Homo sapiens: one gene and its partners. The protein of the gene in region 4 interacts with the protein of the main gene of each other region in a pairwise test. Each region holds a gene or a part of one and is shown on either strand. Other genes may lie near its edges.

What was found.
Region 1: the proteins of HMBOX1 (region 4) and ZNF337 interact in binary tests that used the Homo sapiens proteins (3 or more experiments, as listed by UniProt).
Region 2: the proteins of HMBOX1 (region 4) and BRD1 interact in binary tests that used the Homo sapiens proteins (3 or more experiments, as listed by UniProt).
Region 3: the proteins of HMBOX1 (region 4) and IPO13 interact in binary tests that used the Homo sapiens proteins (3 or more experiments, as listed by UniProt).

The regions. Positions count from the first base shown.
Region 1 is NC_000020.11:25,672,842-25,679,868, reverse strand, and holds the end of ZNF337 (zinc finger protein 337), read left to right. Parts: intron 1-1,794; exon of another isoform or gene 1,795-2,831; coding exon 2,832-4,837; 3' UTR 4,838-6,674; downstream 6,675-7,027. UniProt on the Homo sapiens protein: May be involved in transcriptional regulation.
Region 2 is NC_000022.11:49,817,867-49,824,893, reverse strand, and holds part of BRD1 (bromodomain-containing protein 1), read left to right. Parts: exon of another isoform or gene 1-167; coding exon of another isoform or gene 168-432; exon of another isoform or gene 433-562; coding exon of another isoform or gene 563-576; coding exon 577-1,943; intron 1,944-3,907; exon of another isoform or gene 3,908-4,060; intron 4,061-6,510; coding exon of another isoform or gene 6,511-6,672; intron 6,673-7,027. UniProt on the Homo sapiens protein: Scaffold subunit of various histone acetyltransferase (HAT) complexes, such as the MOZ/MORF and HBO1 complexes, that acts as a regulator of hematopoiesis.
Region 3 is NC_000001.11:43,942,992-43,949,976, reverse strand, and holds the start of IPO13 (importin-13), read right to left. Parts: upstream 3,028-6,985; 5' UTR 2,377-3,027; coding exon 2,293-2,376; intron 561-2,292; coding exon 1-560. UniProt on the Homo sapiens protein: Functions in nuclear protein import as nuclear transport receptor. Serves as receptor for nuclear localization signals (NLS) in cargo substrates.
Region 4 is NC_000008.11:29,047,372-29,053,766, forward strand, and holds the end of HMBOX1 (homeobox-containing protein 1), read left to right. Parts: coding exon 1-82; intron 83-1,582; coding exon 1,583-1,677; intron 1,678-1,918; coding exon of another isoform or gene 1,919-2,014; exon of another isoform or gene 2,015-2,023; intron 2,024-2,830; coding exon of another isoform or gene 2,831-2,857; exon of another isoform or gene 2,858-3,015; intron 3,016-3,646; coding exon 3,647-3,784; 3' UTR 3,785-5,891; downstream 5,892-6,395. UniProt on the Homo sapiens protein: Binds directly to 5'-TTAGGG-3' repeats in telomeric DNA. Associates with the telomerase complex at sites of active telomere processing and positively regulates telomere elongation.

The DNA of each region.
Region 1 (7,027 bases), on a different chromosome or scaffold from region 4:
ATAATGTTAACATGGGGGTACAGGTATCCTTTTGCCATACTGATTTCCTTTTCTTTGGATAAATATGAAGTAGTGGGATTGCTGGATTGTATCGTAGTTCTATTTGTAGTTTTTTAAGGAACCTCCATACCATTTTCCATAATGGCTGTACTAATTATACACCAAGAGTGTATAATTATTGCCTTTTTTCTGCATCTTTGCCATTATTTGTTATTTTTTCTCTTTTTGATAATAGCCATCCTAATTGTGGTAAGAGGATCTCTCAGTGTGATTTGCATTTCCCTGATGATTGGTGATGATGAGCATTTTTTCGTATACCTGTTGCCCATTTGTATGTCTTATTTTGAGAAATGTCTATTCAGATCCTTTTCCCACTTTTTAGTTGGATTTTTTGTTGTTGTTTTTTGACTTCTTGTATATTCTGTATATTAGTCCCTTGTAAGATGAATACTTTGCAGATATTTCCTCCCATTCTACATTTTGTATCTTCACTGTTGATACTTTCCTTTGCTGTACAGAAGCTTTTTAGTTTTTAGTTTAATGTAGTCTCATGTGTGTATTTTTGCTTTTGTTGCTTGTGATTTTGAAGTCTTAGCCATAAAATATGGCTAGTTTAGGCCAGTGTCCTAAAGCATTTCTCCTGTGTTTCTTCAAGTTGTTTTATAATTGTGGAACTCATGTTTAAGTCTTTAATCTATTTTGAGTTTATTTTTGTATAGTATGAGAAACAAACATCTAACTTCATTCTTACTCATTTTGGAATTCACTTTTTCTAATACCATTTATTGAAGATTCTGTCCTTACCCTAAGGTATGTTTTTAGTGCCTTTGTCAAAAATCAGTTGGCTATAAATATATGGATTTATTTGTAGATTATCTATTCTCTTTTATTGGTCTATGTGTATTTCATTTTTGTTTTTGTTTCTATGGACAGGGTCTTGCTCTGTCCACCCAGGCAGGAGTGCAGTGGTGCCATCACAGCTCACTGCAGCCTCTAACTCCTGGGCTTAAGTGATCCTCGTGTCTCAAGTAGCTAGGACTATAGGCATGTGCCACCATGCCCAGCTAATTTTTTTTTTAACCTTTTGTAATGATGGGGTCTCATCGTGTTGCCCAGGCTGGACTCGAACTCCTAGCCTCAAGCAATCCGCCTGCCACAGTCTCTCAGAGCACTGGGATTACAGGTGTGAGCCACTGTGCCTGGCCAGTGTCTATTTTTAGACCAATACCATGCTGCTTTGATGACACTAGCTTTGTATTATATTTTGAAGTGAGGTAGTATGATGCCTCCCACTTTGTACTTTATGCTCACTATTGCCTATTGGAGGTCTTTTTGGTTCCTTATGAATTCTAGGAGTATTTTGTCTATTTTTATAAAGAATATCACTGGTATTTTAATAGGTATTGCAGTGAATCTGTAGATTGCTTTGGGCAGTATGGTCATCTCAACAGTATTATTTTGCTCCATGAACATAAGATGTCTTTTCATTTGTTTGTGTCCTCGTCTATTTATTTCATTGTTTTTATCATAGAGAACATTTAATTTGGGGTTGTTTATTCATATACTTTTTTGTACCAATTATAAATGGGATTGCTTTCTTGATTTCTTTTTCACCTAGTTATTATTGGCATATAGAAACACTACTGATTTTTTTTTCTGATTTCATATTGTGCAACTTTATTGACATCATTCATCAGTTCGAAGAGTGTTTAGGTTTTCTATAGGTACGATCATGTCATCTGCAAAAAGAGACAATTTGACTTCAGTTTTCCAGCTTGGATGCCTTTTATTTCCTTTTCTTGCCTTATTTTTTTCTCTTACCATAGTTCTGACTAGGACTCCCTGAACTATGGTAATAAGAGTGGTGAAAGTAGACATTCGAATCTTCTTCCAGTTCTTAGAGGAAAGACTTTTATCTTTTCCCCATTCACTAAGATGTTTGCTGTGGGTTTGGAACATATTGTCTATATTATGTTGAGATATGTTTCCTGTACACCTGATTTAAGTTTTTATCATAGGCTGGGTGCGGTGGCTTATGCCTTTAATCTCATCACTTTGGGAGGGCAAGATGGGCAGATTGCTTGAGCTCAAGAATTTGAGACCAGCCTGGACAACATGGCGAAATCCCATCTCTACAAAAAATATAAAAATTAGCCAGGCAATGGCACCTATGGCTTGACTACAGGCAGGCACCTGTAGTCTAGCTATTTGGAAAGTTGAGGTGGGAGGATCGTGTAAGCCTGGGAGGTCGAGGCTGCAGTGAGCCATGATCATGCCACTGCACTCCAGCCTGGGTGACAGAGTGAGACCCTGTCTCAAAAAAAAAAAGTTTTTATCATAATGGGATTTTGAATCATATCAAATCTTTTTCTGTATCTGTTGAGATGATCATATGTCTTTTGGTCCTTCACTCTGTTGATGTGATGTATCACAAGTATTGATTTGTGTATGTTGAATCATGATTGCATACTTGGGATAAATCTCATTTGATCATGGTGTATTATCTTTTCTGTGTTGTTGCATTGGTTTTGCTAGTATTTTGTTGAGGATTTTTCCATTTAGCATCATCAGGGATATTGGCCTGTAGTTCTCTGTTTTTGCTGTGTCCTTGTCTGGTTTTGGTATCAGGATAATGCTGGCCTTTTAGAATGAGTTAGGAAGAATTCCTCCCTGCCCTGCTTCAATTTTTTGGAATAGTTTGAGAAGAATTGGTGTTTGTTGTTCTTTATGAGTTTATTAGAATTAAGCAGTAAAGCAATATGGTTCTGGGTTTTTCTTTCATAGAAGACTTTTCGTTACTGATTCAGTCTCATTGTTGGTCTATTCTCCAGGAATATATGCAGAACATGTCCTGCGGCCCAAGAATCTTGGACTTGCACATCAGAGGCAACAGCAACTACAATTTTCTGATCAAAGCTTCCAGAGTGACACAGCTGAAGGTCAAGAGAAAGAAAAAAGCACTAAGCCCATGGCATTTTCCAGCCCACCCCTAAGACATGCAGTAAGCTCAAGGAGGAGGAACAGTGTAGTGGAAATAGAGTCTAGTCAAGGCCAGAGGGAAAATCCTACAGAAATAGACAAAGTATTGAAAGGAATAGAAAATTCAAGATGGGGAGCATTCAAGTGTGCAGAGCGTGGGCAAGACTTCAGCCGGAAGATGATGGTAATCATACACAAAAAAGCACATTCCAGGCAGAAACTTTTTACATGCAGGGAGTGTCACCAGGGCTTTAGAGATGAGTCAGCATTGCTCTTGCACCAGAACACACACACAGGAGAGAAGTCCTATGTGTGCAGTGTGTGTGGGCGAGGCTTCAGCCTCAAGGCCAACCTCCTCAGACACCAGAGGACACACTCAGGAGAGAAGCCTTTTCTGTGCAAGGTGTGTGGACGAGGCTATACCAGTAAGTCATACCTCACTGTGCATGAGAGAACACACACAGGAGAGAAGCCTTATGAATGCCAGGAGTGTGGGCGAAGGTTTAACGATAAGTCCTCATACAACAAGCACTTGAAGGCGCATTCAGGGGAGAAGCCTTTTGTGTGCAAGGAGTGTGGGCGAGGCTATACTAATAAGTCATACTTCGTTGTGCACAAGAGAATACACTCAGGAGAGAAGCCTTACAGATGCCAGGAGTGTGGCCGAGGCTTTAGCAATAAGTCACACCTTATCACACACCAGAGGACACACTCAGGGGAGAAGCCCTTTGCGTGCAGGCAGTGTAAGCAAAGTTTTAGCGTGAAAGGAAGTCTCCTCAGACACCAGAGAACACACTCAGGGGAGAAGCCTTTTGTGTGCAAGGATTGTGAGCGAAGCTTTAGCCAAAAGTCAACTCTTGTCTACCACCAGAGAACACACTCAGGGGAGAAACCTTTTGTTTGTAGAGAATGTGGGCAAGGATTTATTCAGAAGTCAACCCTTGTGAAACATCAGATCACACACTCAGAGGAGAAGCCTTTTGTGTGCAAGGACTGTGGACGAGGCTTTATCCAAAAGTCAACCTTCACTTTACACCAGAGGACACACTCAGAGGAGAAGCCTTATGGATGTCGGGAGTGTGGGCGAAGGTTTCGGGATAAGTCCTCCTATAACAAGCACCTGAGGGCACACTTGGGTGAGAAACGTTTTTTCTGCAGGGATTGTGGGCGAGGCTTTACCTTGAAGCCAAATCTCACCATACATCAGAGGACACACTCAGGAGAGAAGCCCTTCATGTGCAAGCAGTGTGAGAAAAGTTTTAGTTTGAAGGCAAATCTTCTTAGACATCAGTGGACACACTCGGGGGAAAGGCCATTTAATTGCAAGGATTGCGGGCGAGGCTTCATCCTAAAATCAACTCTCCTCTTCCACCAGAAGACACACTCAGGGGAGAAGCCTTTCATCTGTAGTGAATGTGGGCAAGGATTTATCTGGAAGTCAAATCTTGTGAAACACCAGCTTGCACATTCTGGCAAGCAGCCTTTTGTATGCAAGGAGTGTGGGCGAGGCTTCAACTGGAAGGGAAATCTCCTCACACACCAGAGGACACACTCAGGGGAGAAGCCCTTCGTGTGTAATGTGTGTGGGCAAGGCTTCAGCTGGAAGAGAAGTCTCACCAGACACCACTGGCGGATACACTCAAAGGAGAAGCCTTTTGTTTGCCAGGAGTGTAAGCGAGGCTATACCAGTAAGTCAGACCTCACTGTGCATGAAAGAATACACACAGGAGAGAGGCCTTATGAATGCCAAGAGTGTGGACGAAAGTTTAGCAATAAGTCATACTACAGTAAGCACTTAAAGAGACACTTACGTGAGAAGCGTTTTTGTACAGGGAGTGTGGGTGAGGCTTCATCTTGAAGTTATATCTCACCATCCATCAGAGGACACACTCAGGAGAGTAACTTTGCTTTGTTACAAGCTTTAGTTGAGGCTGCATAACTTGTTCGTGAAGATATAACAGAGGCAGACAGAATCCAGAGGGCTACAGAGAACCTGAATTCAACCCATGTGTCCCCAAGAGATTCAGAGAAAAGAGGTCAATGTTTAGGGAACAGAGATGCCAGTTGAGGGGAGGGCATTACCTGGGCTATTGGGGAAATGTGGTCTCTTTCCTACTGAGCACATATTCTTGTTGTATTTGTGCCAGGCTGTGCTTTCTAAGGACTGCTCTTAGCCAGTGACTGCAGAGCAGGGATACCAAGGCAGGCCTGTTACACTCTCCCCAACCTCCTTGGACTGCAAACAATCTAGGACACCTCCACCAAACCTCCTCTTGCACTTTCCCTCTGGCTTCCCTCCCAGCCTTCCTTGGTTTGGATGTTTTGTCCCCTCCTTAATTTATGTTGAAACTCTACATAAACTGTTTACTGTTGAAACAGTGTAAGTATTAGGAGGTGGGACCTTTGGGAAGTGATTAAGTCAAGTCACGAAGATAGAGCTTTGCGAATGGGATCAGGTGCCCTTATGAAAAGGCTTGATAGAGGGAGTTTGTCCTGTGGCCCTTCTATTTTCTGCTCTGTGAGGACACAATGCTCCTCCCTTCCAAAAGATGCAGCATGAAGGCATCATCTTGGAAACAGACATGAGCCCTCAACAGACAACTGCACCTACTGATGTTTTGATGTTGAACTTCCCAGCCTCCAGAACTCTGGGAAAATAAAGTCCTCTTTATACATTTCCTAGTCAGTGGTATTTTATTATAACAGCTCAAATAGACTAAGTAACTGCTCCCCTCATCATTCTCTCACAGTCATATCTGGAAATAAAATCTCTGTATATGCAGTCCCATATTGGTCTTTGCAGAGAACTCCCTCCAACACAGCTGATACCAAGAACAGTCTGACAAAACAAGTGGTAAAATAGGGATCTGGGGACCACTCACCTGCCTGGCAGGAGTAAAGCATGTTGGCTGGTGGGGCACAGGTAGGTGGTTAGCTGCAAAATATTTCACAGGTGATTTCCTGAGAAAATGCCTCAATGATAGAGAATGCTGTGGCAGATGTGATGATGCAGGCCTTTGAAAATGTAGGGAAAGTGCCTACAAAGAGCAGAGTAGACTGATTATCGCCGATCTGCATTACCACCTGCAGAAGGACCTTGAGAAATTGAAGACTTCATTCAGCCATTAGCAAACAGTTAATGGTTAAGTAAACCAGGACTCCCTGGTGAGTGCTTACAAGGCCTTTATCTTCTTGGATAGAAGGCAGAATTATTGCCCAAATATGTGGGCTGAAGGCCTGTAGCAGAGCTCTACAGATGTTGGAATGCTCAGCCAATGCATGTCTATTTTGTAGAGGTCAGACCCTTCGTAAGGAAAATCTGGGATCCTGAAAAATGACACCGGAACATCTCCATGGATGCCCAAGATTGCCTCTGCCATGCTCCCAGCCACAGACCATCTGGGTGTGTAGAGATGGCCCATCCTTCCTTAGGAATAGCATTTCCACCATTCATTACCACAGAACCTTCACAATTAAGGCCAGCTTAATGAGCATGTGCCCTACATAGCTGCACACAACCCTTGTCCAGCACAGGGAAGATACATGCAATATGCCTATCCTTTTGTAAATGGTATTTGTGATGCTTGCCCTTCAACTTCCATAACTTTCCTCATACTCATTTTGAGTTTCACTGCACATTGTGGGTTCACCAGAATTCTGTGCTCCTCTTCCATATTAAACACATTTACATCTGAGTGATCTGGGACACTGACAGCCCCAAGAGACACCACTGTCCATTTGGACCCAGAATTTGATTTGAACTCAGAAGACAATGTCTTAGCATAAACAGCCAAGGAACCCGGTCAACGCATTTCCTGCTCAAGTTCCTCTTATTAGCCAACCACTTGTGTTGAAAATGATCACACACAAGGGATTGGAAACATAAGGCAACTCATAGCTACTTTCTCTGTTTCTTACTCAACTTGAAGTTAGAGTGCACTGGTAGAATGTGCATATGGAGAAGTGAAGTAAAACAGTTGAATTAGACATTAGACACAGTGGTTCACGTCTATAATCCCAACACTTTCTGATGCCAAGTTGGGTGGAT
Region 2 (7,027 bases), on a different chromosome or scaffold from region 4:
AGGAATGCTGCAAGGACTGTGGTGACTCTGGGCTCATGGGAGTGCTCTCCTGGGAGTAGTGGGGAGGGGAAGAGTGGTTTAGGGGGAGCATCCGATAGGACCAGGTAGCCACTGAGCATGCCTGTCTGGTGGGCATAGCCTCTGTGCCTGGTGGGGTCCAGCCCTGTATGTGGACTTCCTGGGGGACCGCCTGCATGCTGGGAAAGTCCTGCAACTGTGGGCTCTGGGCCGGACCCCTCCTCCTTGGGGAGCGTTGCTGTGGTCTCCGCAGCCTGTTGGTGTGGTCTGAGAGGGGACTGGTGTGTGGTGGTAGGGACGCAGGTGCTCAGGAGGGCTCCTCAGGCTGCCTCTCTGCCTGTTACTGCTGCTCCCTCCCTGGTCCTGGGGACTCGCTCAGGCCTGGATGTGTGGTTTTGGACACCTTGGAAAGAGGTTAGCTGTGAGTTTTGCTTTGATTGGGCTTTGAGCTGCTGAGCTAGATCTGTCCAAGCATGCTTTTGTGGTTTTCTCGAGTCTTTGGTCACCCTGCGTAGAATTACCTTTACTTTTGCCTTCATTTTAGGTAATCATTACCAAATGAGGAGGAAAGGACGATGTCATCGAGGCTCTGCAGCGAGGCATCCTTCTTCCCCATGCAGTGTTAAACACTCCCCTACGCGAGAAACGCTGACCTACGCTCAAGCTCAAAGGATGGTAGAGATAGAAATTGAAGGGCGCTTGCACAGGATCAGTATTTTTGATCCCCTGGAGATCATATTGGAAGATGACCTCACTGCTCAAGAGATGAGTGAGTGCAACAGCAACAAGGAAAACAGCGAGCGGCCTCCTGTCTGCTTAAGAACTAAGCGTCACAAAAACAACAGAGTCAAAAAGAAAAACGAGGCCCTCCCCAGCGCCCACGGCACGCCGGCCTCGGCCAGTGCCCTCCCGGAGCCCAAGGTGCGCATCGTGGAGTACAGCCCTCCGTCCGCCCCCAGGAGGCCTCCTGTGTACTACAAGTTCATCGAGAAGTCGGCCGAGGAACTGGACAACGAGGTGGAGTATGACATGGACGAGGAGGACTATGCCTGGCTGGAGATCGTCAATGAGAAGCGCAAGGGCGACTGCGTCCCCGCCGTGTCGCAGAGCATGTTTGAGTTCCTGATGGACCGCTTCGAGAAGGAGTCGCACTGCGAGAACCAGAAGCAGGGCGAGCAGCAGTCTCTGATCGACGAGGACGCCGTGTGCTGCATCTGCATGGACGGGGAGTGTCAGAACAGCAACGTGATCCTCTTCTGCGACATGTGCAACCTGGCCGTGCACCAGGAGTGCTACGGGGTGCCCTACATCCCCGAGGGCCAGTGGCTCTGCCGCCACTGCCTGCAGTCGCGGGCCCGGCCCGCCGACTGTGTGCTGTGCCCCAACAAGGGTGGTGCCTTCAAAAAGACAGATGACGACCGCTGGGGTCACGTGGTGTGTGCCCTGTGGATCCCAGAGGTCGGCTTTGCCAACACGGTGTTCATCGAGCCCATCGATGGGGTGAGGAACATCCCTCCAGCCCGGTGGAAACTGACATGCTACCTCTGTAAGCAGAAGGGCGTGGGTGCCTGCATCCAGTGCCACAAAGCAAACTGCTACACAGCATTCCATGTGACGTGTGCCCAGAAGGCTGGCCTGTACATGAAAATGGAGCCCGTGAAGGAACTGACTGGCGGTGGCACCACCTTCTCCGTCAGAAAGACCGCTTACTGTGATGTCCACACGCCTCCAGGCTGCACCCGGAGGCCTCTGAATATTTACGGGGATGTCGAAATGAAAAATGGCGTCTGTCGAAAAGAGAGCTCGGTTAAAACGGTCAGGTCCACATCCAAGGTCAGGAAGAAGGCAAAAAAGGCTAAGAAAGCTCTGGCTGAGCCCTGCGCGGTCCTGCCGACCGTGTGCGCTCCTTATATTCCCCCGCAGAGGTAAGCGTGTCCAAGCATTGAGTCCACAAGGAGCCTGCAGTGTGGGACCCTGGGAGGACGTGGGCACAGCCTGCAGGGCCCGTGCTGTGTGGTCATTGCGTTTCTAGTTGGCGCAGCTTCCTAATATTCCCCTGAAGTGTGGTTCTGCTTGTTTACCACGTCTTTTTGGGGAATAGATGTTGTAAAAGATTTTAGTCTGTAGGCTTGGAATAATCTGTAGTTTTCTATGTTTTTTTTTTTGGAGACGGAGTTTTACTCTGTCGCCCAGGCTGGAGTATAGTGGCGCAATCTCAGCTCACTGCAACCCCCGCCTCCTGGGTTCAAGCAATTCTCCTGCCTCAGACTCCTGAGTAGCTGGGACTGCAGGCGTGCGCCACCATGCCCGACAAATTTTTGTATTTTTTAAGTAGAGACGGGGTTTCACCATGTTGGCTAGGCTGGTCTCAAACGCCTGACCTCAAGTGATCTGCCCGCCTTGGCTTCCCAAAGTGCTGGAATTACAGCACTTGCTCAGCCTTTTTTTTTTTTAAATAGGGTTTTGCTCTGTTGCCCAGGCTGGAGTGTAGTGGCACGATTTCAGCTCTCTGCAACCTCTGCTGCCAGGTTCCAGCAATTCTTGTGTCTCAGCCTCCTGAGTAGCTGGGACTACAGGCGTGTGCTCCCATGCCCAGCTAATTTTGTATTTTTAGTAGAGGCGGGGTTTCACCATGTTGCCCAGGGTGGTCTGGAACTCCTGAGCTCAGGCAGTCTGCCTGCCTCTGCATCCCAAAGTGCTAGGACTATAGGCGTGAGCCACCATGCCCAGCCGTGCGTGAAGATTTTTAAGAATTTCAGTGACTAAACTTTAAGAAGGAATGAAGCCCACGCAGGAACTCTGTATGACTTTCAACCCGAGGGGCTCTGGCCTGGGCTTCCCAGTGACTGCCGGCATCGGGACATCCACTGCTGTGGCCTTGGCCCCGTTTCCCGTGCTGTGCCCCCCACTTGCTGCAGATGCCCTGAGGAAAGGGTGGCCAAACAAGGGGAGGAGCTGTGAGCACAGATGGGGCCTGCCGGTCAACAGGGCGGGTAGAGCCAGCCTGGTGCTGAGCTTGCAGCTTGGCTGGGGGAGACGCCTAGAGCCCCAGTACCACACAGACCCTCCAGGACTGCCGGGGGTCAGTGAGCAGGACCCTCTGAGGTGTCAGACCTGCCCCACATGTGAGGGGAGGACAGCACAGGTGGGACGCATGCAGGCTGAGCTGCATCGGGCGGTGAGGCTGGGAGGTTGCAGTGAGCTAAGATTGTGCTACTGTACCGCAGCCTGCGTGACAGAGTGAAACTGTGTCTCAAAAAAAAAAAAAGAAGTTTTAAGTGATTTTTGTTAATATTACTCTACTTTACCAAAGTGAAGTCCAGTTTCTTTTCACAGAGCTGTAAATACTCAGATAATTAGTCAATTCAGACAGAATGAACAAAAAATGCTCATAATCCTTCCCATCCAGGGAAAACCCTGTCAAAACCAAGGTGTTTGTCTTTGTAAATTAATCTGACTTTGAAGAGATGGTTTTGCTTGGATTTCTACCTATGAGTCAAAAAGTCTAGGGTTTGTATTAAGAGCTTCTGTATAAGAGGTCTAAAAATTTCAGCTTTACTGAAATTGAAGCAAAATAAACAAAATGTGATCTAACAAAATGAAGAGCCAAAAGTCTGAAGTGCTCCCTTCCCTGGCCAGTACCAGATGATGACCTGCTCTGGGAGAGGCCGGGCCTGGCCGGGCCGCACGCTCTCTGTTCTTTGGCTCCTGATGTTGGGTAGGCAGGACTGAAGGAGGCAGTGTTTGCATGCAGGACATGGGGGCTGAAGTGGCCAGGGCTGATTGAGAAGAAAACTCGACCTAAATATTTGAAAGCATGTATTGGAGCTAAACCGCGTACTGTGTGGTTCTGTTCTTTTCCTAACTTGGGAATAAACTATTATTTCAGCTTCGAGTAGAGAGAGAGAAACAAACCTGGACGAGTGTTCCTGGCCGCGGTCTCTGCAGTCTGGGTTTCCCAGTCTCCAGGAGATGCTGGTGCTTCAGGCCACCTTGCCACCAGTGGAGGAGCTCCCAGTGCGCCTGGCCTGTTGGCACCATGGTGCTGGACCCACCTCTGGGGTGGTTGTGAGGGGCAGGCTCTCAATACAGTACTGACTGCTGCCTGAAACCGGGTTTACTGCCTTGCTGTGGTCTGAGAGGCAGCTGATCTGGCAGCCCTGTTCTTAGGCCCTGGGCACTACCCCTGGGTGCATGTAGGAGGCCTCAGCTGTGCATTTGAATTCTGTGTAGATGAGGGTGAAGCTTCTTATTTTTTATTTTATGTTTAGAGACAGGGTCTTGTTCTGTTGCCCACGTTGGAGTGCAGTGGCGTGATCATGGCTTACAGTAGCCTCAAACTCTTGGACTCAAGCGATCTTCCCGCCTCAGCCTCCTCCCAGCCTCAGCTGGGAATACAGGCACGAGCCACTGTGCCTGGCCCATGGTGAAGCTTCTTGATGTGCAGCCGTGGGCGGGGATGCTGAGTCTAGTTGGTTATGGTGTGCACTAACCAATGGCTCCGGTGTAGGACCCACCTAGAGCATCTGAGGATGTTATGCTTCAGGCCAGCCAGTCACGCTGGAAGGGAGATGAGACCCCATCTGAGCAGCGTTTTAGAGATTTTAGAGAAAGAGGATCTTCCTTATTCCCTGTGGACAGAACAGAATCTGCCTTCAGGGACGGACTGCTTTTATAATTCTAGTGGTTTAAAAAATTAAAATTTCAAGTAAAAAAGATAGTTCTTTTTTTTCCCCCCTTTTTTTTGAGGTGGAGTCTTGCTTTGTTGCCCAGGCTGCAGTGCAGTGCGGTGATCTTGGCTCACTGCAACCTCCACCTCCTGGGTTCAAGTGATTCTCCTGCCTCAGCCTCCTGAGTAGCTAGGATTACAGGCACCTGCCACCACACCCGGCCGATTTTTGTATTTTTAGTAGAGACGGGGTTTCACCATGTTGGCCAGGCTGGTCTTGAACTGCTGACCTCAGGTGATCCACCCGCCTCGAACTCCCAAAGTGCTGGGATTACAGGCGTGAGCCACTGCGCCAGGCTAAAAGAGATAGTTTTAAGGTTATAATCTGTTTTTTTGTAAGTTTGATATACTATGATTAAATAATAACAGCGGTAAATAAACACTTTGAAAAACAGGCAGGGCTGGGTGTGTGGCTCACACCTGTAATGCCAGCACTTTGGGAGGCCGAGGTGGGTAGATCACGAGGTCAGGAGTTCGAGACCAGCCTGGCTAACATGGTGAAAACCCATCTGTACTAAAAATATAAAAATTAGCCAGGCGTGGTGGTGCGCGCCTGTAATCCCAGCTATTCAGGAGGCTGAGGCAGGAGAATCTCCTGAACAGAGTCCTGCTCTTCTGCTCAGACGGGTGCAGTGGCATGGTTATGGCTCACTACAGCCTCGACCTCCTGGGCTCAAGCGACTCCCCCACCTCAGCCTCTTGAGTAGCTGGGACCACAGGCATGTGCCACCATGCCCTGCTAATGTTTTTATTTTTTGGTGAGATGGGGTCAAGCAATCTGCCTGCCTCGGCCTCCCAAAGTGCTGAGATTACAGGCGTGAGCCACCATGCCTGGCCTTACATTGATTTATTGTTATTTTTTCTTTTCTGTTCTTCTTTTTTTTCCTGAGATGAAGCCTCGCTCTGTTGCCCAGGCTGGAGTGCAATGGCATAATCTCGGCTCACTGCAGCCTCCACCTCCCAGGTTCAAGCGATCCTCGTTCCTCAGCCTCCCGAGTAGCTGGGACTACAGGTGTGTGCCACGGTGTCTGGCTAATTTTTGTATTTTTTTTGTAGAGATGGGGTTTCACCATGTTGTCCAGGATGGTCTCAAACTCGTGACTTCAGGTGATCTGCCTGCCTTGGCCTCCCAGAGTGCTGAGATTACAGGCGTGAACCACCGCACCCAGCCCTATTTTTTCTTTTCACTTCCTCTCTCCAGCATACATCAGTTTTTATTAACGGATTGAGTTGCACCTGTATAGAATGACATTTTTTTTTTGAGACGGAGTCTTGCTCTGTCACCTAGGCTGGAGCGCAGTGGCACGATCTCGGCTCACTACAAGCTCCACCTCCCGGGTTCACGCCATTCTCCTGCCTCAGCCTCCTGAGTAGCTGGGACCACAGGCGCCCACCACCACACCTGCTAATTTTTTGTATTTTTAGTAGAGACGGGGTTTCACCATGTTAGCCAGGATGGTCTTGATTTCCTGACCTCGTGATCCATCTGCCTCTGCCTCCCAAAGTGCTAGGATTAGAGGCGTGAGCCACCGAGCCCGGCCAGGAGGACATTTTGTCTTTAGTCTTAAAGGAAAAGGGAAAGTCTTTTCCATTTGCACCAGTTTGAAATTAGGGCTCCCTTAACATGGATTACTGCAGGACTCATTCACATGAGAGTTCATACATGGGGTGAAAAGACAAACAGGGTTTCCTGATAACTCTTTTTGGTTATTGCATGAAATGAGGGATAAATACACGCATAATCTGTTTAACAAAACTCCTAGGTTCATCAGAATGCAAAGTAGAAAGTGTCTTAAAAGAGACTGTGATCAGCAGGCAGACGGCCTGTGTCGGTTTGGTTCCTTTGACTGCTTCAGATCTTCTAGGAGGAGCTCCTCTACTACGAGAGCCTGGACTTCAGCCTCACGGACAAGAACCTCAGATAGGCAAGGCTTTGTGATGGGTGCTCCTCCTACCTTCATTCGAATGAGGTTTTCCTCCCGCCTTCACCCTGATAGGGTGCTCCTCCCGCCTTCACTGGTGTCATTTTATTTTGAGTTTAAAAGGATGAACTGGTCTTGGTCAGCCTTAGGAAGGGAAGCATCACTCAGGTGAAAATACGTGGCGAACTTTAAATACCTAGATATTCTCCTCATGCATTTAAATTAGAGTGACTTGAGCTGTTAGAAAAGTTGACTGGGTGCGGTGGCTCAGGCTAGTAATCCTAACACTGGAAGGCTGAGGTGGGTGGATTGCTTGAGCCCAGGAGGTCGAGGCTGCAGTGAGTTGTGATCGCACCTT
Region 3 (6,985 bases), on a different chromosome or scaffold from region 4:
GGTGAGCTGGGCTGCTGTAGCAGCTGCTCCAGCAGCGGGAAGACAGCCCCACATTCCACCGCCAGGCTGGTCCGCACCAGGCCTTTGCGGTACTGGGGTAGGCGACTGGTCTGGAACTCCTCAGGCAGCACTGTCAGCAGCTCTAACAGGGCTAGGCAGCGGCCCTGCCCATCCACTGGTGAGTCCTCAGCCTGGAAGAGTCGTACCATATCTGCCACAGCACATGGCCAAGCGTCAGGCATCATGCTGAGAGCCAGTGAGGCCAGTGCCACGCACAGCCGAGTCAGTACAATCTTGGAGCCACTGGCAAAGCGGGTGATCTGGGTGAAGAGCTGTGCCTTTAGGCTTTCATACTGGTCAGTGGGGATGTCACTCCAGTAGCGAGAGATCTTGATGTGAAGAGCACTGGCCCCAAAGTACTGGATCTCTGGTACCTTGTCGGGCTGCAGTAGCTGCCAGCTGAAGTGCCAGGCCTGTGGGGAGACCTGGGCCTGCATCAGCCACTTCTGAGCCAGGTTCTTATTCTCAATGTTGGGATCATAGTAGAGCTGGTGCAGCGCCTGCAGGACAGCACAGGACTGAGCAGGTGCTGGCCACTCTGGATCCTGCCAGAGCCCAGAACAGAGGCGTGACTTGGTCCTGCAAGGCTGCTCCCTCTCCCTGACTGGGGGGCTGAGCAGGGAGAGCTCAGCGCTCTGCAGTGTTTCCTGGGCCTGGGGTCCTGCTGATATCTTGAGAGCCTGAACCTTGCCCATGCTCTACCATATCCTCTTCTCCTTACAGCAAAACATTATGGGTTCAGAGAGGGAATCTCCACAGGAAAGCAAAAAAGAGGAGGCTGATCTCCCCAAAGGGGAGGCACTTGAGGGCAAGGCCCAGGTGGAAGGAACAGCTTCACAGGGATGAAGCTAAGTCTGAGAAGGGCATGGAACAGCTTGAGGGGACTTGACCCTCCCAGGCACAGCTGCTCCCATCAACTCCAACAGCTCCTTTCAGCTCCCCCAGGATCATCCCTAGGTCAGTCCAGATGCTGGCACCAAAGCCAGTGTGAAATCAGAGCAGGACTAAGACTTTTGCCAGGCAGCCCTGGGGCAGACATGCTGGAGGAGAGGGTGAGAACACTCCTCAGAGGGCACATGTCCAACCAATTGATCCAGAGAAGCCTTGGCCATAGCTGCAGCCCTGGCAAACACCTAGCTTAGTGCTCTCCACTAGCAGAATCCCCGGGGTCTCAATTCCAACGGGACTTTATGAAGTAAGAAAACAGTGAGATTTATCTCCCAATAGCACATGGAACAGTGCGCCACCATGCCAACACTGCCCTGCTCCAAGGGGCGGAAGAGTATGGCCAGGACCCTGACCCCTAAGCAGGCTCCATCCAAGTAAGCTTAGCTCTATTTGTACCCCTGACAGCCAGTTATGGCCATTGGCCCTTGTTTGGCCCCTCAGGGACGCCAAAGCAGGCAGAAGAGATGCATCCTCATTGTTTGTTATGGCAAACGGGGGTTAAGGATAACAAGTGAACATCATTCCCTGCTTTCAAGTAAGGGAGCCCCATCTCCCCATTCATCCCAGGGTGCATGCATTCCTGCATTTCAAGTTGTAGGGAGCAGATACAGAAAAGAACCAAAGAGGCAGTTCAGAAAGATGGGCTGGGCAGTCGGGGAGCCTGGGAGGGCCATGGCAGGGAGCTATGTGGGCAGGCGAGTAGGGAGGAGCCCTGTAAGGCTCCCAGCAGGGCCAGGACCCTTGGACTCAGCACAAAACAAAGGGAGACAGCCCCAGGCCTGCCTGCTCAGGACTGGTCTGGCTTCCATCCAATAAAGGAAGGACCCTTCTCCAAAGAGTCAAAACAACCCAGATTGTTTTAGTTCCAGATTATTTTCTGAGCCCTTGGCTCAACAAAACCAGGTCCAGGATGGTTTGGCATCAGTATAATTCCAGGAGACTGAGCTGCAGGTCTCCTGGGTTCCCAGTTTCCTACTGCACTGCTCATGCAGTTCCCATGGAGCTGGAACATAGCCAGTCTGGACGGAAGGCTAAGTCACAGCACCCTGAAGGGACCATCCCAAGACCCTAGAGTATCTATCCACAGGGGACCTGCCTGTAAGGAAAGACAAAAATAGCCCATTAGGGCACTGCAATACTGCCTGCCCAGAAAGAGAGCAAATGCCAGGTGCTCTGGGGGCACCATACCAGCGGGCACCCAGCCCAGGCCTGAGCTCTGCCATCAGTGACAGTCCCCAGAACTTCTGCTCTGTCACTGGAGTGCCCACCCCAGAGCCCTCATACCTTCTCCACGTTCTCCACAGTGAAGTCCAAGGCTGGTGCTGCTCCAGCCCCTGCAGCCCCCGGCTGCTCCTCCCGCCGCTCCATCTTTGCTCCCTCCCTGGCAGGGAGGTGGGCCCTGATCTGTCTCCTGCCCCAGCCCCTTGGCTGCTGGCCCCCTGCTAGACCCCGGCTTGGGTGCCCAGGGAGTGGTGGGGTGAGGGGGGGCCCAGGGCGGGCATGGCTGCCGAGGCCTCCCCACCTCGTTTGGGGGTGGGAGGCTTGCCAGAGACCAAAATTGGTGCTCTTAGGAGACCCAATGAAGGGGACTCCGAGGAGGGAGCCGTCAGTGAGGAGCTCTCAGGCGGGGATCCTAGTGGCAGGTAACAGCTCTGTCCCCAGAATCTGTGTGGAGGGAGTCACAGGGGAGGGAGGCCTGCGGGGGAAACCGAGTCCCTGGCTCTTGAGGGGTCACAGGGTCGATGGCCTGTACCCACAACACCCCCGCCTGGGTGAGCTCTCGGCTGCTATGAACAGGTCATGGGGCTGGAGGGTCACGGGAGAGAGAGAGCCCTTCGTGGTTACGGAGGCGTCCAACGAAGCGCGGAGATGCAGCTCCGCTAGTCTAGGGCGAAGAGTCCGTGGAGTTGAGGGGCTGTGGCAGGTCCCTTCCGTTCGGCCTGGCCCGCGCTGTGCTCAACGCCCGGCTACAGCCCCGCTACAGCCGCTGCCTCCGCCCCAGTGACTGACAAGACAAGCCAGGCCGGCCGGGACGGGGCAGGGACCTCGGCAAGGCGCGGGCTGCCCCGAGCGCCTGTCCCCGGCACCTCCAACTCAGGCCCCCACTCCTGCCAGTTCTGGCTCGGCACGGCCCGGTACAGGCCGGCACGGCCCAGCGGAACTGCGCGGAAACTCATTCCGGGTCCTTAGCCCTGTCCTCGCGCCAGCTCGCACTCCCCTGAGCAGGCGGTGGAGCGGCTCGCCGCCCCAGGCCGCGGCCGAGTCTAGGCCCCGCCGCTGTTCACCCTGGGAAATGTAGTCCGTGTTGCGCCTAGCCGGAAGGCGGCGCCCTGCGGAGGAGGCCGGGAGCACGTGGGTTGGGGACCTGCAGAGCCCCGCCTGTCCTCGGCCTACCGCGGCGAGCAGGCATTCCGGGTCAGACCGGCGCGGGGCGCTGCGGCCCAACTCCTTAGTAGGACGACGTGACTCGAGGGGCCGGAGGACGGAGGTGGGAGCCCGGGCTAGAGGGTGGAGGCTGGGGAGGTTGCCTGGTCACTCTGGCGCTCCGCTGCCGGGGGCATCCTCCGGCCCAGCAAAGGTGCAGCCTGGGAAGAAGGCGTCAGCACCACCCAGAGAAGAGGAGAGGGGACTTGGCACGCCTCAGGAAGGAAAAAAGGAAGGCTCTCGGGACCACCCAATAAGCAACCGGGAAACCACATACCATGGACAGTGCTCGGGGAATTTCGTAAGGTTTTTGGAAGTAACTTTATGTGTAACTAGAGTAAGAGTAGCTTACATTTAAGTGCTAGGAGCAGGACTTTGCTTACCTTAGGTTCAGTTTTCTTAATAGCTCTGAGGTGGATATTTTTATTCATCATTTTCAGATGAGATGAGGAAATCGAGCTTGGGGAAAGTTAGGCTTATCTTGCCCCTGGCACACAGACAGGGTGGCAGACCATGCCATAGATCTGGTCTGCCACAGGCCCCGGTAGTTCCTGCCTGTCACCCCTCCAGTTGTATTTTATTGTTTATTAACTCCTGCCAGCTACCCTAGCAGGGAAGAGGAAAAAATTAAAAGTGCAAAGAGCTCCGTAGTTTTGTTCAAATGGAGGAAGCTGGCATTGGAAGCTGGCATTGGCAGCAGCTGCTGAGGCCTGAGAAGGTCCATGAAGGCTTCCCTGAGAAGAGAAACTTGATCTGAGCTTGAAGAATAGAGAGCCTGGGAAGGAGAGGGGCCCATTTAGCTGGTAAGCAAAATCCAGTAGGACTCTAAGTCATTCAGCAAGTCTTCATCAATAAAGAATAGCAAGTAGGCCGGGCGCGGTGGCTCACGCCTGTAATCCCAGCACTATGGGAGGCTGAGGCGGGCGGATCACGAGGTCAGGAGATCGAGACCATCCTGGCTAACACGGTGAAACCCCGTCTCTACTAAAAATACAAAAAATTAGCCGGGCATGGTGGCAGGCACCTGTAGTCCCAGCTATTCGGGAGGCTGAGGCAGGAGAATGGCTTGAACACGGGAGGTGGAGCTTGCAGTGAGCTGAGATCACGCCACTGCACTCCAGCCTGGGCGACAGAGTGAGACTCCGTCTAAAAAAAAAAAAGAAAAGAAAAGAAAGAATAGTAAGTAATTTATATTCATTTTAAGAGAATATATGTGGGGTGGGGAAGGGGAAGGGTATGAGTAACAGAGATGAGGTTGGAAAGACAAGTTGGTGGCAATAGATTCTTGTAGGAGTTTGGACATTATCCTAAGTGCAATATGAAACCATGATGGGGTTTCAAGTGAGCAATGATGATTACATTTGCATTTTAGAAAAATCTGCAACATGAAAGACAAATTGAAGGAAGAAAGAGAGGCAGGAGACATTTGGAAGGAGGAAATAGAAAGCCAAAATAAAGTAACTGATTCCAGGCCTGTGCCTAGGGTGTGAAATACCTTGGGCCTGGTGCTGGCTGGCGGTTTCACTGGTGGAGGTGGTGGTGGGCAGGGGAGATGGTGTTGGGAGTGGGGTTTAAATGCACAAATTCTGGACTTAGTCCTGAGTTCAAAACCTGTTTATGCCTCTTTCTAGCAATGAGACCTTAGCTTCTTCTGAAACTCATTTTAGTTAAGGGGTTTTAGGGGTGGGGGGCTCAGCCCAGAGACCACAACTTAGTCAGTATGTGTTTTCTTCCTGCTTCCCATCCAGGGCTCCTCCTCATCCCTGGAGGTTCCAGGGATCTGGCAGAGAAAGAAGCCCAGTCTCACAGCAATGACTCCTGAACATCCTTTGCAAACACTATTTAGGACAGATGGACTGAAGTAGGCCCTGGGGAGAGTTGGGGGCATTTCCGGAGGCCAGACCAAAGGTGATCTCCAGGAGATTTGGATGTTAGTGCAGGATAGCTCAGAGCCAAGTGGCAGATAAGTCTTTGGGAGCCAGAAGGGCTCTTTCTTCTCTAAGGAACAAGTGTAGACCTATAGGGGCAAGAACCTGTGGCAACCCTGGGAGAGGTCTGCAGATTCAGGAGGGAACATCCCAAAACTCAGCAGAGGAGGAGAGGGAGCTTTTGTTGGTCACCTGGAACCACTACCAATCCATGTTCATGTCAAATTAAATGATCACTTTGAAGTTTTTCAGCCTACCAAAATCATGTGAATTTGGTCTGCAAAACCAGACGACTGCCTGCTTGCAGTTAAGAATTCTCAGCGGGAGGCCGGGCGCAGTGGCTCATGCCACCAGCACTTTGGGAGGCTGAGGTGGGTGGATCACGAGGTCAGGAGTTCGAGACCAGCCTGGCTAACACGGTGAAACCCTGTCTCTACTAAAAATACAAAAGTTAGCCTGGTGTGGTGGCGGGCACCTGTAGTCCCGGCTACTTGGGAAGCTGAGGCAGGAGAATCTCTTGGACCTGGAAGGTGGAGGTTGCAGTGAGCTGAGATCGCGCCATTGCACTCCAGCCTGGGCAACAGAGCGAGACTCTGTCTCAAAAAAAAAAAAAAAAGAAGAAGAAGAAAAAAAAGAATTCTCAGGGGGAGATTATTCCCCTTTCTTAGTACCAAGGTTGGATGTAGGCAGTTTTCTTTGTAGTCCCCTGGTTTGAGGGAGAGAGGTTAGGTCAGACAGGGGCAGGTTTCTTTCTAATTCACCTTCACAGTGTAGGCATACACTGGCCTTTGAGGTCCTGGCCTTATGGAGAAGTTTCTAAATAGACTCCCCATGGTGAGGGGGCCCTGGGCTTTGTCTTTCTCATAAGCCCAGAGACCCCTTGAAAACCAATGATCAGGTTCTCTGGGTTCGGCAACTGCCCTCAAGATGAAAGCCAATGACAGAGCTTTGCTTACCTTTGTAGCTTCTTGCTTTCATTTACTTTTTTGGCCTCAGTGTGTTTCTTACATTTTTGCTAGCTTATGGATGCATTTAATTTTAAAGATAGATAGAGTCTAGTATTTAAAGTTGTTTTCAGGAGGAAGTTTAGCCCAAGTCCTTAGGCCACCATGTTGCAAGAAAACCTAACGGGCAGTTTTCGGTTCTGATGCAGCTTGATTTTTGTGCTGCATCTGGCCCTATTGACCAGTCCCTCAGCTCTTCTGTTTGGTTTTGTTTTTCCCGACACTCTGACTACTCCTTTTTGGTTTCCTTCACTGGCCCATCCCTGTTCCTCCACCTGTTCCTTAAATGTTGGTCCTCCTTAGTCTCCGCTTCTTGTCTTATGCCTCATTATCTCACCACTCCCCTGGCTTCAAGCTGTGACTCCTTGGATTTCTCCAGCCCAGACTGTCCTGGGTTTCAAACCTGCATATTTAGCTGCCTCCTGGCCCTCTGAAGTTGCCACAGGCACCCAAAGTTGAACATGTACAAAACTGAACTCACATTTTCCCCACATCTTACCCCTATCACATGCTAAAATACTACATCCCCTGTGTTCTGTACCAGTCCCCCAAGCTAGACACCTGGAAACCATCTCTCATCCAGCCCTCACCTCTCTTATTGTCCCTCACATCTCTTCTGTC
Region 4 (6,395 bases):
GATCTGGAAAGAGTTACCTCCCTGAAAGTATATAATTGGTTTGCTAACAGAAGGAAGGAGATCAAGAGGAGAGCCAATATTGGTAATGTATCAGTGAGGCTGCTTTTCTCTTGTGCAGCAGTTGTGAACGTCATGTTTATATTAAGATTAACTTCAGTTTAGAAACTGCAAGTCTAAAGGATCCTAACTTCTCTTTTTTTTTTTTTTTTTTTTGAGACGGAGTTTCACTCTTGTTGCCCAGGCTGGAGTGCAGTGGCGCGATGTTGGCTGACTGCAACCTCTGCCTCCTGGGTTCAAGTGGTTCTCCTGCCTCAGCCTCCCGAGTAGCTGGGATTATAGGCATGTGCCACCACACCTGGCTAATTTTGTATTTTTAGTAGAGATGGGGTGTCTCTATGTTGGTCAGGCTGGTCTCGAACTCCCGACCTCAGGTGATCCGTCCGCCTCGGCCTCCCAAAATGCTGGGATTACAGGTGTGAGCCACCGTGCCGGATCCTAACTTCTAAGCCTAACAAAAGTTGCCCTAATGTCTTTCATTGTGTTTTTAATAAACCACAGTTAGTATTATTTACACTATTTGTAGTGTAATGGTAATGACATTATTATTTATAAAACTCATTCTTCTTAAAGTTCTAGAATATAGAATTAGACATGGCCCCTGAGCAATTGATTACTCCTGTGGTACATTTGAAAGATACTTGTAAGATCTTGAGAAAGGGAATGTAATACCCAGAATTTCTTCATTATTACTGGACTATGACTTAAATATTAGGAAACAATTGATTAATGGTTTGGAATGAAAGAGACTTAATAGACAAGGAACGCAGCAAAAGGCAGAGATAAAGAGCATTTAAGAAATATGGATTCTTGATGTAATCATTTATGTATATATACACATATCAAAACATCACCTTGTACACCATAAATATATACAATTTTTATTAATTATATTTCAATAAAGCTGAACAGAGAAAACAAAAATGCCAAAAGTGCCCTAGAGGGAACTACGAATACAACTGAAAAAGGAAGAAATAAAGGATTTGTTCCCATTCAAAACTGTAACAGTAATAAATAAGAATAAGAAATTTAAGTTGGTGAGTCAGGTGGGATGTTGGTTTTTAGCTTCTAAAATTGCATTTCATTTCTTCCATCCAAGTACTAACCAGGCCTGACCCTGCTTAGCTTCCAAGATCAGACGAGATCGGGCGCATTGAGCGTGGTATGGGCATAGAATGCATTTCATTTCCTTCCTTTGTAAATACACTTTTTATTCATCAGTACAGTTCTCATATGCTCTATAGAACCCCAAGATAGGAAGACTGTTTAGTTAGTTAGCAAGTATTTATGAAGCACCTAACATGCACAGCAGCAGAGACCCCAGAATGGCAAATGTGTGCCTCCCCTGACCTACATGCAGTTGAATTTCATCCATCTTACAGTCTAAAAGAAACAAATGTAGAGAAATACAGGTTCTTGTTTAATTACATTCTAATTAATTTCCTTAGCACAAAAATTCATTCAGTGTTTCAGCCATTGTGATAAGGTAACAGATAATTTAGGGATCTATTTGCTTTTTTCGAAGAAGCAGCAATCCTGGAGAGTCATGGGATAGATGTGCAGAGTCCAGGAGGCCACTCAAACAGTGATGATGTCGACGGGAATGACTACTCTGAGCAGGTGAGCCCCTGCGCAGCTGGGCGAGGTTCTTGGTGCCTGAGCAGGGGGTATAGTGGGACAGCTTAGTTCCTTGGGTGTGGCTGATGGGGTGGGGGAGGGGAAACAGTCACTGTCCCTCCACTCTGCTCCTGTGTCTAGTTAGATTTCATGTAATTTGAAAGGAATGTGGTAAGATTCAGTTGTCCTGTTGAATTTGTGAGAGATCGTTATTCACCCACATGGATTTATTGTCATACAACAGGATACTTGGCAAGTACGCAATGGGGAGGAGGAGGAGGGAAGAAGTTCAGAGGGAGGCAGAGAAGCAGAGAAGGTAGAAGAAGAGAGGAGGATCTGATCCAAACAAGCAAGTTACACCATTCACGACACACACTCAGTGTTTGAGAAATACTAGGGGCAGCTGGACCCCATGCCTAAACACGTACCGACGCAGGGCACGATGGAAGGCCCCACTCACTCTGGCCCCACTGCAGTGGGAACCCTCCTGCCCAAAGGAGTGGTTCTTCCAGAGTCTCTGGCACACTGACACATGCATCCTCTCATAAGTGCAATACCTGCATGACTCTTCACCTCGCCCTGATTTATTCTGCATTGCTTTTGGGGAAAATGTATTTAATTGTAGCCACTGCGTGGAGTAATTCAGTAACTAAGACTGTGGGAGTCCCTCCTCGACCCCCACATAGATGTTGACAGATTTCATTAAAATTTTGATAGGATTTAAATTTCCATTTGGAATATGCAGAGAACGCATGGTACCTTCCCCTAGACCACAGCAAGAAAACTTCTGCTCATTTTTCTGGGGTCTGTGCTTTTTTCTTGCTCCTCAGCCAGCTCATATAGTCCAATGTGTTCTTTAATAGCCTCTGTTTACCACACACCTAGAATGCATGCAAGTGTGTGCTGATCCCTTTGTAAATTCTAAAAACTAATCTGTGAACATCAGAAGGAAACAATGATGTCCACACTTCTGAAGAACTACCATTTTTTCCCATTTAGGACTCTAGTTAATAGCCCCAAGAGAATATTCTGTAAGTCTTTCTGTTCGGAAACATTCCTCTTTTCAGTCTACCCACATAGATGGATCATTTCCATCTTTTTTTACAGATGCCCTAAGGGCAGCACATTCCATGTTTTGTTTGTTTTTTTCCTTAAGGGACTTACCCTTTCCAAAGCTCTTTGATACGGAGTTCCCCTGAAGATGACAGGTGAGAAACATACCCCTTATTTGTAACACCATCTTCAGTGCCTGACGTACATCCTGCAATGCCAGCTTCCTTCACAGCTTTATTGTTTAACACATTGAGCTGCGCGGGGAGGACAGCTTCACACTAGTTCTAGGTAAGACGCCTGCCGCTCCCCTTGCACAGCTGCCTGCAGCAGGAGAGCTCGACACCTTCCTCCCCTTTCTCCCGTAGCCGTTTCTGGCAGTGACATGTGTCCTGTTGTAATGGAGAATTCTTTTTTTCTTTTTTTACAAAAATGCATTTTTTATCTGTAAGATGTAATTGTAAGTTCTGTCTAGTTTTCTCAGTTCAGAGAGGGACCATGAATTCTAATAATCTATTTGTAAGAGCAGCAATCTGGAATTTAATAGCTCACTAGTATGGCCTTCAGTGATTAGTGCTATATTTGTTACAAACAGAAAGATCCAAATTGTTGGTTTTATATCAATCACTGCAGGTTTGATCATCATCACCAGCAATCTTATTAATAGAATGAATAGAATTCTCAGTGATGAAAAACATTTTTTGTGCTTTTTACTTGTTGAATCATAAGATTATCAACTGAAAATCTTTGGACCTATATCCATTCAGTGTCTACTTAAATACAATTTACCTCTATTTTATCATGAGCCCCTCCCCCAGTTTCCTCCCACGAATGTTCTGCCTCCCCTTGCCCCAGCATGTCTCTCTGTGACTAAAGAATTCTTCCAATCCACTAATAACATTTCTTATTTCTGCACATCTAGGATGACAGTACGAGCCATAGTGACCACCAAGACCCCATCTCATTAGCTGTGGAAATGGCAGCAGTCAACCACACTATCTTGGCATTGGCCCGACAAGGAGCCAACGAAATCAAGACAGAGGCCCTGGATGATGACTGATCAGGGAGGTTAAACATGACAAGTTAACTTAGTTTAGACGTAGCACCTTAGCAGACTTTCCTCGGTCCTTAACATGTGTTCTTACAGTATAACTTGCAGTTTCTTGTATGTCAGGTAGCTGTTAGGGTCTTGTTCTGTGAAGATGGCATGGTGCCCTCAGCCTTTGCATATACTCTCTCAGTATTAACTCCCAGTAAATAATAACCAACCAACCAACCAAACTTCCCTCTCCCAGCCCCCGAGGCTAGAAAATCTTGCTGCTCCGTCTTAGCATTCCAAGAAAGTGCTTCCAGGTATTTAGATAGCCCTCAGTTCTCAAATATTAGACTACGTGTAAAATCTTGGGTACCTTTAGATTCTTGTAACACTAGTCTGTACTCCCTTTTCCTTCCCCAAGACTGATAGGATGCAAGCTGAGGTCGTGGCACAGGAATGACAGACACCATTTGGGGAGTATCCACAGAGTCAAAGGAACACTAGAATCCCCACCTCAGCGTGAGGATAATTGATTTCCAGCTGCAATAAGCCGTGCCTCATTATAGCCACACTGTGGCTAGATTATACTTCTTTGGGTGCTGTGCTAAGAATGTCAATGGAAAAAGCCGATCTCAGATTTTGTTTGAAGTTAACATGCCTGACACAGACATCCTTTCCTCTCACAAGCTGTGTGACTTAGTAGATAAAATACTGCCTTCTGCCTTTGGGACCATGATTAAAAACAAAGACAAAAACCAAAAGTCATTAAAAAAAAAAAAAAAAAAAACCCAGCTTGAGAGCATTGGAAAAAAAAAATATGAGCTGAATGTCTAATGGATGCTAAGTCCAGTTTTCAGAACCACTGTACATTCCACGGCACAGTTAGCAGTGCCTGCCTGGAAAAGTTTTGGAGGTCATCGTGGAAGTTGCTTTGCCTCCTGTCAGTGTCCCCTTTCCCTGCTACCAAAAAAGTCTTTCAAGGATGGAGCTAAGGTCAAAAATGAGTGAAAAAACTTGCAGTGTTTGTATCCATTAAACGGAAGCCCCCTCACTCTGAGAGGTCACTAGAGGACTTCATAGTGGGGTTGTGCTGCTTATCACAGATGCAGACACTTGCCCAGATAGGAGCAGAGAAAAGCAGGGGACGTTTCCTACTCACATTGTGGCTGTATGAGAACACGATGGGACTGCTTTGCTGTTCTCTTTACTCTGTCCTTGGAGAGGTGTGAAAAGCTGTATTGCTACAGGCAATTTATTTAATAATTGGAAGCCATATTGATAATGGATGTGGTAATATTTGTAAAGTTTAATCTACTTTAAGCGGCAGTAACTAATGGAATTTTTTTCCTTGATCACATATGTAGCACTTTTGTTACTTTTTAAAGATATTTATATTTGATAAATCTTTTTTTCATTTTGAGAACTCAAAATACCAAACAGTGAACTTGCATTCTAAAGTCACCCTGTGATCACCTTGTCATCTAGTAGCAAAATGATGAACTATTCATGCATCAAAGAAAATTACATCTGCTGGCCTTGTATGAAAATGATCTCTTGGCATCCCGATTAAATGACACACTGTCACTGTGGGTAAGAGGAAAGAGCCTTCAATGTAGCAGCACAGGGTGCGCCTGAAAGAGGCACAACTGCTGTGGATTTTCTGCCTCGCTCCATCTCTCCTATGTATAATGAAGCCTTGTTTAAAGGGGCATGTGGGGCTGGATGTTAAGCACGGCTTCTTTTTGTCCGTTACCTGAAAACAATTTCTAAGATAAAAGGAAGGTGCCATTTCCTTACCTCTTCACCCATCCTCCTCCACCAAATGTATTCAACTTAAAACTGTGAGAGAGAGAGACTGAATGACCTTCCTCAGTTTTCCCTTTCTCATTCAGGAGATACTGAATATCCGCCAGTTTGTAGTTGGTTTCCTTCCACTTAAGGCACACGCTGACTGCATCATTTCCTTATCTGTTAATCCTGCTTATGTGAGTGTGAGGAAAGTCTTTGAGAGGGCATGAAAGTGCCACCTTATATATGTCTGTGACTTTAAAGAGCTATATGCAGGGCCTGGTCCCACTTTTGTCCATGGATTTCAGGGGGAAAAAATATATGTACTTTTTTCAGCTTCCAAGCATTGAAGTGAAGTGGAGCCGTCTCTTCTGTTTTACTGTATTACTTGAACCAACAAATTCAAGAGTAGCATTTGTTATTCTCAGGAATGAGCCTCCCACCGCCCCCCCCCCACCGACTCATATTCTTTTTTGGTTTATCTTTTTATTTCAATTAGGAGATTACGTTCTCTTCCTTTCCTTTTATTTTGCTTAGAGGAAATGTAACATAGTCCCATTTTTGTGGAATTTTGACGCTTATTCTCAATTGAATCAGAAAGTACAAGGAGACAGAGAAAAAATCCGCTCTGACAAGCCACATCCATGATTGATTGTAAGGGGATTATTATAATTGATAGCTTCTTTATCATGGGATTGCTAGTATCATTTGTACTTGCTGGTCTTTTTAAAGGAACAGACTGACTCAAACTGTTAAGACAGCTGCAGTTTCTAAAGAAATACAAAGATTGCCGTGGATGCACTCAAAGGTTTCATTGTTTTAACACCTTTAAGGGAGAAAAAAAGCT